3 separate regions of the Homo sapiens genome follow, and regions 2 and 3 are each linked to region 1. Evidence: fine-mapped QTL for protein levels in blood plasma. A gene starts in region 1. Each other region holds a variant in brackets. All regions are shown on one strand. Distances are between the middles of the regions.

Evidence for each region. PIP is the chance, under the fine-mapping model, that this variant and not a neighbour inherited with it causes the effect. Protein levels are from antibody-based Olink assays in UK Biobank. Linkage for the fine-mapping came from a reference panel and not from the study's own genotypes, which makes the PIPs less certain.
Region 2: its variant is fine-mapped to the plasma level of the CSF2 protein (UK Biobank, PIP above 0.99).
Region 3: its variant is fine-mapped to the plasma level of the CSF2 protein (UK Biobank, PIP 0.95).

The regions. Positions count from the first base shown.
Region 1 is chr5:132,071,968-132,074,732 of GRCh38, reverse strand. It overlaps CSF2 (colony stimulating factor 2), which reads right to left and starts at 944. Exons shown (of 4, transcript NM_000758.4): 1 at 751-944; 2 at 611-652. The coding sequence starts at 909.
Region 2 is chr5:130,853,494-130,856,258 of GRCh38, reverse strand. All of the region lies in intron 1 of LOC107986449 (a long non-coding RNA gene), which reads left to right. Among named protein-coding and RNA genes, the nearest start is that of HINT1, 310 kb to the left of the region's middle. The variant A/G (reference allele first, on the strand shown) is at 1,451.
Region 3 is chr5:130,902,344-130,905,108 of GRCh38, reverse strand. No RefSeq gene overlaps it. Among named protein-coding and RNA genes, the nearest start is that of HINT1, 260 kb to the left of the region's middle. The variant A/G (reference allele first, on the strand shown) is at 1,339.

The DNA of each region.
Region 1 (2,765 bases):
GCTGCTGCCCCCAGCCCCCAGGAGTAGGGCTTGGGAGGGGCACAGGCTGGGTCCAGTCATAGACCCTGCCCTGTCCATGGCAGGCACGAACCTGCCCTTCTCACTGCCCCGCCCAGGCCACCCTCAGCGGCACCTGGAGAGGAGCCCAGCCTTAGGGAAGGAGGTGACTCTCACCCCATCATTCAGGGAGAGGGGGGTGGGGCCTCACCTGGACCTGCTGGGTGGGCAAGGGTTGTTCCTGAAACCCCTCTGTGCCTCTCTGTAGTCAGCACTGTCTCAACAGGACTTGGTCTCGGGGCACAGTGAGCGCCCCAAACCCACAGCTCCTGTCTCATGAAGTGACCCCCACTTTACCACCTGTCCCCTGGTGACTCCTGGCCATTGAATGCTAGGTCTGCCCATGGCCGCTCAGCTGATAAAGGAGCTCATGTGACTGCCATAGGGGCACGGCCAGCAGCCTCTTGAGCACCCAGTTGCTACCCCCTCCTCCTGCAGCCAGCTGACTGGAGAGAAAGTGGACAACCCTGTGTGGTGCCATCTAAAATGGAGTCCCCACCTCCACCCCAGGGCAGGGGCTTCTGGAAAGCTATGTCAGAGAGAAGCATCTTACCTGGAGGTCAAACATTTCTGAGATGACTTCTACTGTTTCATTCTGTAGAAAAGGAAAATGTCATGTTATCAAGCTGACAGGCGTGGCCAGTCAGGGGCCAGCTGGGTGGCCTAGGCACAGGCCCACATTCTCTCACTTACCATCTCAGCAGCAGTGTCTCTACTCAGGTTCAGGAGACGCCGGGCCTCCTGGATGGCATTCACATGCTCCCAGGGCTGCGTGCTGGGGCTGGGCGAGCGGGCGGGTGCAGAGATGCTGCAGGCCACAGTGCCCAAGAGCAGCAGGCTCTGCAGCCACATCCTCCAGAGAACTTTAGCCTTTCTCTCTGTGTACTGGGCTCACTGGCAAAAGAGCTCTTAAATACACAGAGGAAATGATTAATGGTGACCACAAAATGCCAGGGAGGCGGGGGAACTACCTGAACTGTGGAATCTCCTGGCCCTTATCAGCCACACATGGGAACGGTGAGCCTTTTCCCTAGGTGGTCAGGCTTGGGGGTTTTCATTAATGAACCTTTCCAAGAACCGACAGCCCACCCACCCGCCTTCCTGAGGGCTCTCCAGCCCTCCCTGGGCAGTCTGAATGGGCCTGAGGCTGCCCCCTCCCTCTGAGGGGCACAGTTTGGACTTCCTGGCCTGGAATGGCTGGGGTGGGGCGTGGGAGACACTTAGATAGGGCTCCCCATCCTGCCTGTAATCCCAGGGGCCTTTGGGCAGGCTATGCCCGCCCTGGTGCCTCATTCTGACTCCAGCCTTCCTCTTCTCTGGCCACTGTGAGAGACTTGAGTGTGAGGGGAGCTCTCACAGACCTGCCCCACTGACAGTTCACATGGGCTCCCACCCAGGACCTGGAGCAGGGGGCAACCTCAGTCCAGTAAGGGGGGACCCCTGCCCCTGTGAGCAGAGGGAATGACCACCATGTGCACATCCAGCAGCGAGACTGCAGCCACTCTCAGCAAGCTTCAGAGGGGGTGTGGCTGGGTCAAGTCGGGACCCAGAGTCTGACTCTTGGCTCTGGAGCCACCTTCCTGAGTGACTCCCCTCTCTGGTTATGTGAACCTTGATTCCCTCTGCAGAGCAGGTTTGCCCCTCTGAGGTTCGGACTACACTCCTATATGTAGCCCCCAGAAGACACCAGGAGCTTCAGGCTGGCTCCAGGGCTGTGGCTGCATCCATCTCAGGTACAGGGACAATGGCTTCCCCAGCAAGGCCCTCCAGGCTTAATTTCCTACATAACCCCAGCATCCCCCAACTCCAGAGGCCTTTCTGTGGAAGTGTGGAAGTAGGAAATCTAAAGGCTCTTGAGGGGCTGACAAGTGTTTGATTTTCACAATGGAGTTCAGAGAAGACAGCACGAGTTTGTGTTTGCACAAGGTATCTGGCTCAAGCTGCCCCATGCCTGGGTTTCATAGCTAAAGGGGTGTGGGCCCACACGTGCCCATTTCTGGGTGTATGTGTGCTGCTGTGATTGGTTGTACATACAGGTGCCTGGTAGAGGGGAGGATGTTTTCCATGCAGATGCATCTATTGAGTCCTCTTACCTGCTTTATGAAAGGCTCCAGGCCTCTGAAGGTGACTCTGATACTGGAGAAGCTCCCTACTCCAGGTGCAGTGCCTCTGGGCCCTAGAGGCTGATTCAGCCTAAACCAGTGGGGTTGGACACAAGCGAGAACATTCTGCTGGACTCAGGTTGGCGAGCCTTCAGAGAGCAGGTGGAGTTCATGGCTTTAGCACTGTGGTCTGAGTCTGCAGCCCTGGCCAGTTTCCCTGTACTGTGGGAGTTTTTCTGACCTTGCATAGAGAAACCAAACCTTAGTCCTCCAGACCCCACTGTGAGGCCAGCCCCATCCATCTGAGCCTGCGTAGAACACTCCTAGTGGCCAGGCTGGGGTGGGAACATGAAATGTCCAGGCCCTGGCCCTTTCTCCACCTTTTTTGCAAGGCCTTGGCTCAGCTCTTTCCAGGGAGCTCTCGGGGGAGAGATGAGGACATGGATACTACATGTAGATATCACATGTGTTGGATAGCACCCTGGAGGCTGGAGGGCAGGGAAGGGAGCCATAGATAGTGGTTCAGCTGATGGCCAGGGAGGCAGAGAGCCTGTATGACCCATCTGGGAGAGAAGGTCACTTTCCTCCTAGAAATGAGTTGTCATA
Region 2 (2,765 bases), 1.2 Mb after region 1:
CCATGCCCCAAACCAAGGAATTATGGTTTTCAGAGGCAGAGGCAAAGGCTGGGTCTGGGACTATAGTAACTGAAGTACATGGAACCAATGTTAGGGTGCTGCTCTTTTTATGAGTTGGCCCATGTCCCCATGGGGCCCCATGTCTTTCTGTTTGAACTCCAGATTCTCAGGAGAAAGGCATGGACTCATCCGACTTTTTTCTAGTGTTTTTAACCTCTATTTTCACCAATCATGGGCAGCAGAGTAGTGGAACAGCACAAATATGGTGGTGTTGGCATTGCTGTGAGCCAAGATGTACCCTAATTTTGTGTTTGTCACAGTTGGTCACTCTCATCAGGGCTGATATGGTCATTGGAAGAATTTTTTCTCTTTATACTAGTAATTCCTTAAAGTTCAGCATTCAAGCACAGAATCTTTATCAGGTTTACATCTACAGCTCTGCTTATTTCTATTTCCATTAGTTCTTGCTCAGATTGTGCAATGCTACAGTTATGACTGCTGATGCCCAACTATGACAAAATGCTCCCTTTTGTACTTCTGGAGCAGGATGGACTCACCCACCACACCATTCTATTTTTACAAAGAAGAATAAACTTTTGAGCTGAATGAAGGGCTGTTTGAAAGATTCTCCTCCAGTACTCACAAGTAATTTACCCTGCAGTTAAGTCCTGTCTCCACTACCAAATATTTTCCTCTCCATTTCTACAGATCTGTTAATAATGGCCTATGGGCCTCCTGGAGTTTTGCTATTTAATTATTTTATGTTGGTTAATGCAGAAAATGAATCTGGACAGTACTTTATTTCAATCTGTCTTCAAGGTCCTGGGGAGATTTACTGAATATGGCAAGCTTTGTTTAATGTTCATTTAGTTCTTTCATGTCCACTTACTGTGGAAAAGAATGACTGAGATGAATGGTGACTCCGTGGCATATTTACTTGCCCAGGTGGAAAATTGTTGCTGCTGCTTTCAGAAAAACTTTCCAACCTAAATTAAGGCCATATTCCTTGAAGTTAAAATGGCAAAAGACAAATCTATACATACTATAAAATATATATTGTCTTTTTTTGAAATCATACTCTTTGATTTTTTTTTTCAATTTTATAGCAGTAAAGTTTCAATGAACTCAAAATGATATTTTTGTTTCCTCATTTAAGGAGTAGTGCCAGCAGACATAGTATCTATTTCTAGTTTTGACTCATTGCCTGACCTTAAGTAGGTCATTTGAGCTTTTAGGTCCTTCATTAATAAAATGGGAATATTAGTATTTATATTTTTCATGGAAACCAACAGAATTCTTATTCAATGAAGAATCATTGGCATGGTTGAGAAGGTGTTGGTTGCTCCCACCACCCAAAGCATTCACATTTTTACCATGTTTTCAAATTACTTGAAGATTTTGACTATCTTCCGATCTTTTCTTATGTTTAAAAGACAGTTCTGATGACTAC[A/G]CTTCATTTTCTGATCATTGCAGTACTCAAGGATTGTACATTAAGGCTAGGCACAGTGGCTCATGCCTATAATCCTAGCATTTGGGAGGCCGAGGTGGGCAGATCACTTGAGGTCAGGAGTTCGAGACTGGCCAACATGGTGAAACCCTGTCTCTACTAAAAATACAAAAATTAGCTGGGGTGGTGATGTGTACCTGTAATTCCAGCTACTAAGGAGGCTGAAGCACAAAAATTGCTTGAGCCGGGGAGGCAGAGTTTGCAGTAAGCCAAGATTGCCCCACTGCACTCCAGCCTGTGTGACAAACGAGACTCCATCTCAAAAAACAAAAGGATTGTACATTAAGCATTGGCCACCTGATGCTTCAGATCCCTTCATTATGGAATCACGATTGCCTAAGTACACTAGAGACTTATAGGCTTATTTTGATTTGTGCAAATCTAGGAAGTTATTTGGGGTACTAAAATAGTTTCTTAGTATTATGAAAACCCTTTCCTTATTCCAGAGTCCATTGAACCTGATCATATTGATTATATTAAAAATGTTTCCATAATTCTCTCTGTTATAAATGGAGGTTAAAACAAAGATTATAGGACATAGTCTGATACCAGAACTATATTTTTCTGAAACTTTCTTCAGCTGCATTCTTTCCCCTTTAGGAATTTACAGTTGAAAGACATTTATATCTTTTTACTATCCAATCACACAGAATCTAATTATATATTGTTTTGCTTCTGCTCTTCTTTGCTGTAGATGTTTTAGAACCTTGAGAACATTCCAAAACTAAGTATGATTCAAGAAAGGCTAATGCTTTTCAACTTTAGTTTTCTTTTACAGTTTTTGTCTTTAAGAACAGCATATGCCATGCTTACTTTGCTTATCTTTTAGAGTGACTTTATTTGTAATGATCACGGCTACTATATCCCAGTTACCAAGAATTTGATAGGAACCATGCTAATAACTAAATACATATTTTCTAACATGTAGCTTCAGTATCTCAGTTGTCATAAGACAAGGTTATTATTCCATAGGTATTAGATATGTGCTAATCATTACATAAAAATATTACTTTGTAATTGTAACATCATTGTAAGTGGATAATCTGCTTAATATTGGAAGTGGAATAATTTTCTTCATTATTAATTTGTTCTATTATCTATGTCTCATAATAATTTGGGTAATACATAAAGTTCTATGACATTTAAAATTGTAGTCATGCAGAAATTGCTTGGTTGTTCCTATAAAGCTAAGTAGGAAAATATAGGTAAACAGACGTGTTTTGAATAATATTTAGGGACATCTAAAATATGAATCTGG
Region 3 (2,765 bases), 1.2 Mb after region 1:
TTGGCAGAGAGAAAAGTTTTAAAATTTGATAAAGCCCAATTTGTCCTTAAAAAAAGTCATGCTTTGATGTCAAATCTAAGAACTGTTTTTTAACCCAAGGTCAAGAAAATTTTCTTGTGTATAAAGTTTTATATTTTACATTTGGGCCTATGATACACTTTGGGTTAATTGTTGAACAAGTTGTGAGGTATGGGTTGAGGTTTAATTCTGCTTTTCCATACAGATGTTCAGTTGTCCCAGGATCATTTGCTGAAAGGACTATACTGTCTCCACTGAATTCTTTTGCACATTTATCAAAAGCCTATTTTGTTCATATTTGTGTAGATCTATTTTTGAATTCTCTATTCTGTTCTTTTAATCTATGTGTCTATTATTTATCCAATAACACATTGTGTTGTCTACTAGTCTGAATCCTCAAAGTTTTTTTTTTTTTTTAAATTGTTTGGGCTATTCTAATTTCCTTGTCTTTACATGTAAATTTTATAATCAGCCTTCTCTCTCCCTGTTTTTTTTTTTGTTCTTAAGTCTACATGGCTACATCCAGTCACTTTCTTTCTTTTTTTATTATACTTTAAGTTCTAGGGTACATGTGCACAACGTGCAGGTTTGTTACATAGGTATACATGTGCCATGTTGGTTTGCTGCACCCATCAACTTGTCATTTACATTAGGTATTTCTCCTGGTGCTATCCCTCCCCCAGTCCCCCACCCTCCGACAGGCCCCTGGTATGTGATGTTCCCTGCCCTGTGTCCATGTGTTCTCATTGTTCAATTCCCACCTATGAGTGAAAACGTGGTCGTTGGTTTTCGGTCCTTGTGATAGTTTGCTGGGAATGATGGTTTCCAGCTTCATCCATGTCCCTGCAAAGGACATGAACTCATCCTTTTTTATGGCTGCATATTATTCCATGGTGTATATGTGCCATATTTTCTTAATCCAGTCTATCACTGATAGACATTTTAGTGGGTTCCAAGTCTTTGCTATTGTGAATAGTGCTGCAATAAACACATATGTGCATGCGTCTTTATAGTAGCATGATTTATAATCCTTTTGGGTATATATGCAGTAATGGGATGGCTGGGTCAAATGGTATTTCTAGTTCTAGATCCTTGAGGAATCAACACACTGACTTCCACAATGGTTGAACTAGTTTACACTCCCCCAACGGTGTAAAAGTGTTCCTATTTCTCCACATCCTCTCCGGCATCTGTTGTTTCCTGACATTTTAATGATCGCCATTCTAACTGGCGTGAGATGGTATCTCACTGTGGTTTTGATTTGCATTTCTCTGATGACCAGTGATGATGAGCATTTTTTCATATGTCTGATGGCTGCAT[A/G]AATGTCATCTTTTGAGAAGTGTCTGTTCATATCCTTTTCCCCTTTTTTGATGGGGTTGCTTTATTCTTGTAAATTTGTTTAAGTTCTTTATTTTATTTTATTTTATTATTATTATACTTTAAGTTTTAGGGTACATGTGCACAATGTGGAGGTTAGTTACATATTATACATGTGCTATGCTGGTGTGCTGCACCCATTAACTCGTCATTTAGCATTAGGTATATCTCCTAATGCTATCCCTCCCCCATCCGCCCACCCCACAACAGTCCCCAGAGTGTGATGTTCCCCTTCTTGTGTCCATGTGTTCTCATTGTTCAATTCCCACCTATGAGTGAGAATATGTGGTGTTTGGTTTTTTGTTCTTCAGGTAGTTTACTGAGAATGAGGATTTCCAGTTTCATCCATGTCCCTACAAAGGACATGAACTCGTCATTTTTTATGGCTGCATAGTATTCCATGGTGTATATGTGCCACATTTTCTTAATCCAGTCTATCATTGTTGGGCATTTGAGTTGGTTCCAAGTCTTTGCTATTGTGAATAGTGCCGCAATAAACATACGTGTGCAAGTGTCTTTATAGCAGCATGATTTATAGACCTTTGGGTATATACCCAGTAATGGGATGGCTCAGTCAAATGGTATTTCTAGTTCTAGATCCCTGAGGAATCACCACACTGACTTCCACAATGGTTGAACTAGTTTACAGTCCTACCAACAGTGTAAAAGTGTTCCTGTTTCTCCACATCCTCTCCAGCACCTGTTGTTTCCTGACTTTTTAATGATTGCCATTCTAACTGGTGTGAGATGGTATCTCATTGCGGTTTTGATTTGCATTTGTCTGATCGCCAGTGATGATGAGCATTTTTTCATGTGTCTTTTGGCTGCATAAATGTCTTCTTTTGAGAAGTGTCTGTTCATGTTCTTCACCCACTTTTTGACGGTGTTGATTGTCTTTTTCTTGTAAATTTGTTTGAGTTCATTGTAGATTCTGGATATTAGCCCTTTGTCAGATGAGTAGGTTGTGAAAATTTTCTCCCATTTTGTAGGTTGCCTGTTCACACTGGTGGTAGTTTCTTTTGCTGTGCAGAAGCTCTTTAGTTTAATTAGATCCCATTTGTCAATTTTGGCTTTTGTTGCCATTGCTTTTGGTGTTTTAGCATGAAGTCCTTGCCCGTGCCTATGTCCTGAATGGTAATGCCTGGGTTTTCTTCTAGGGTTTTTATGGTTTTAGGTCTAATGTTTAAGTCTTTAATCCATCTTGAATTAGTTTTTGTATAAGGTGTAAGGAAGGGATCCAGTTTCAGCTTTCTACATATGGCTAGCCAGTTTTCCCAGCACCGTTTATTAAATAGGGAATCCTTTCCCCATTTCTTGTTTTTCTCAGGTTTGTCAAAGATCAGATAGTTGTAGATATGCGGCGTTATTTC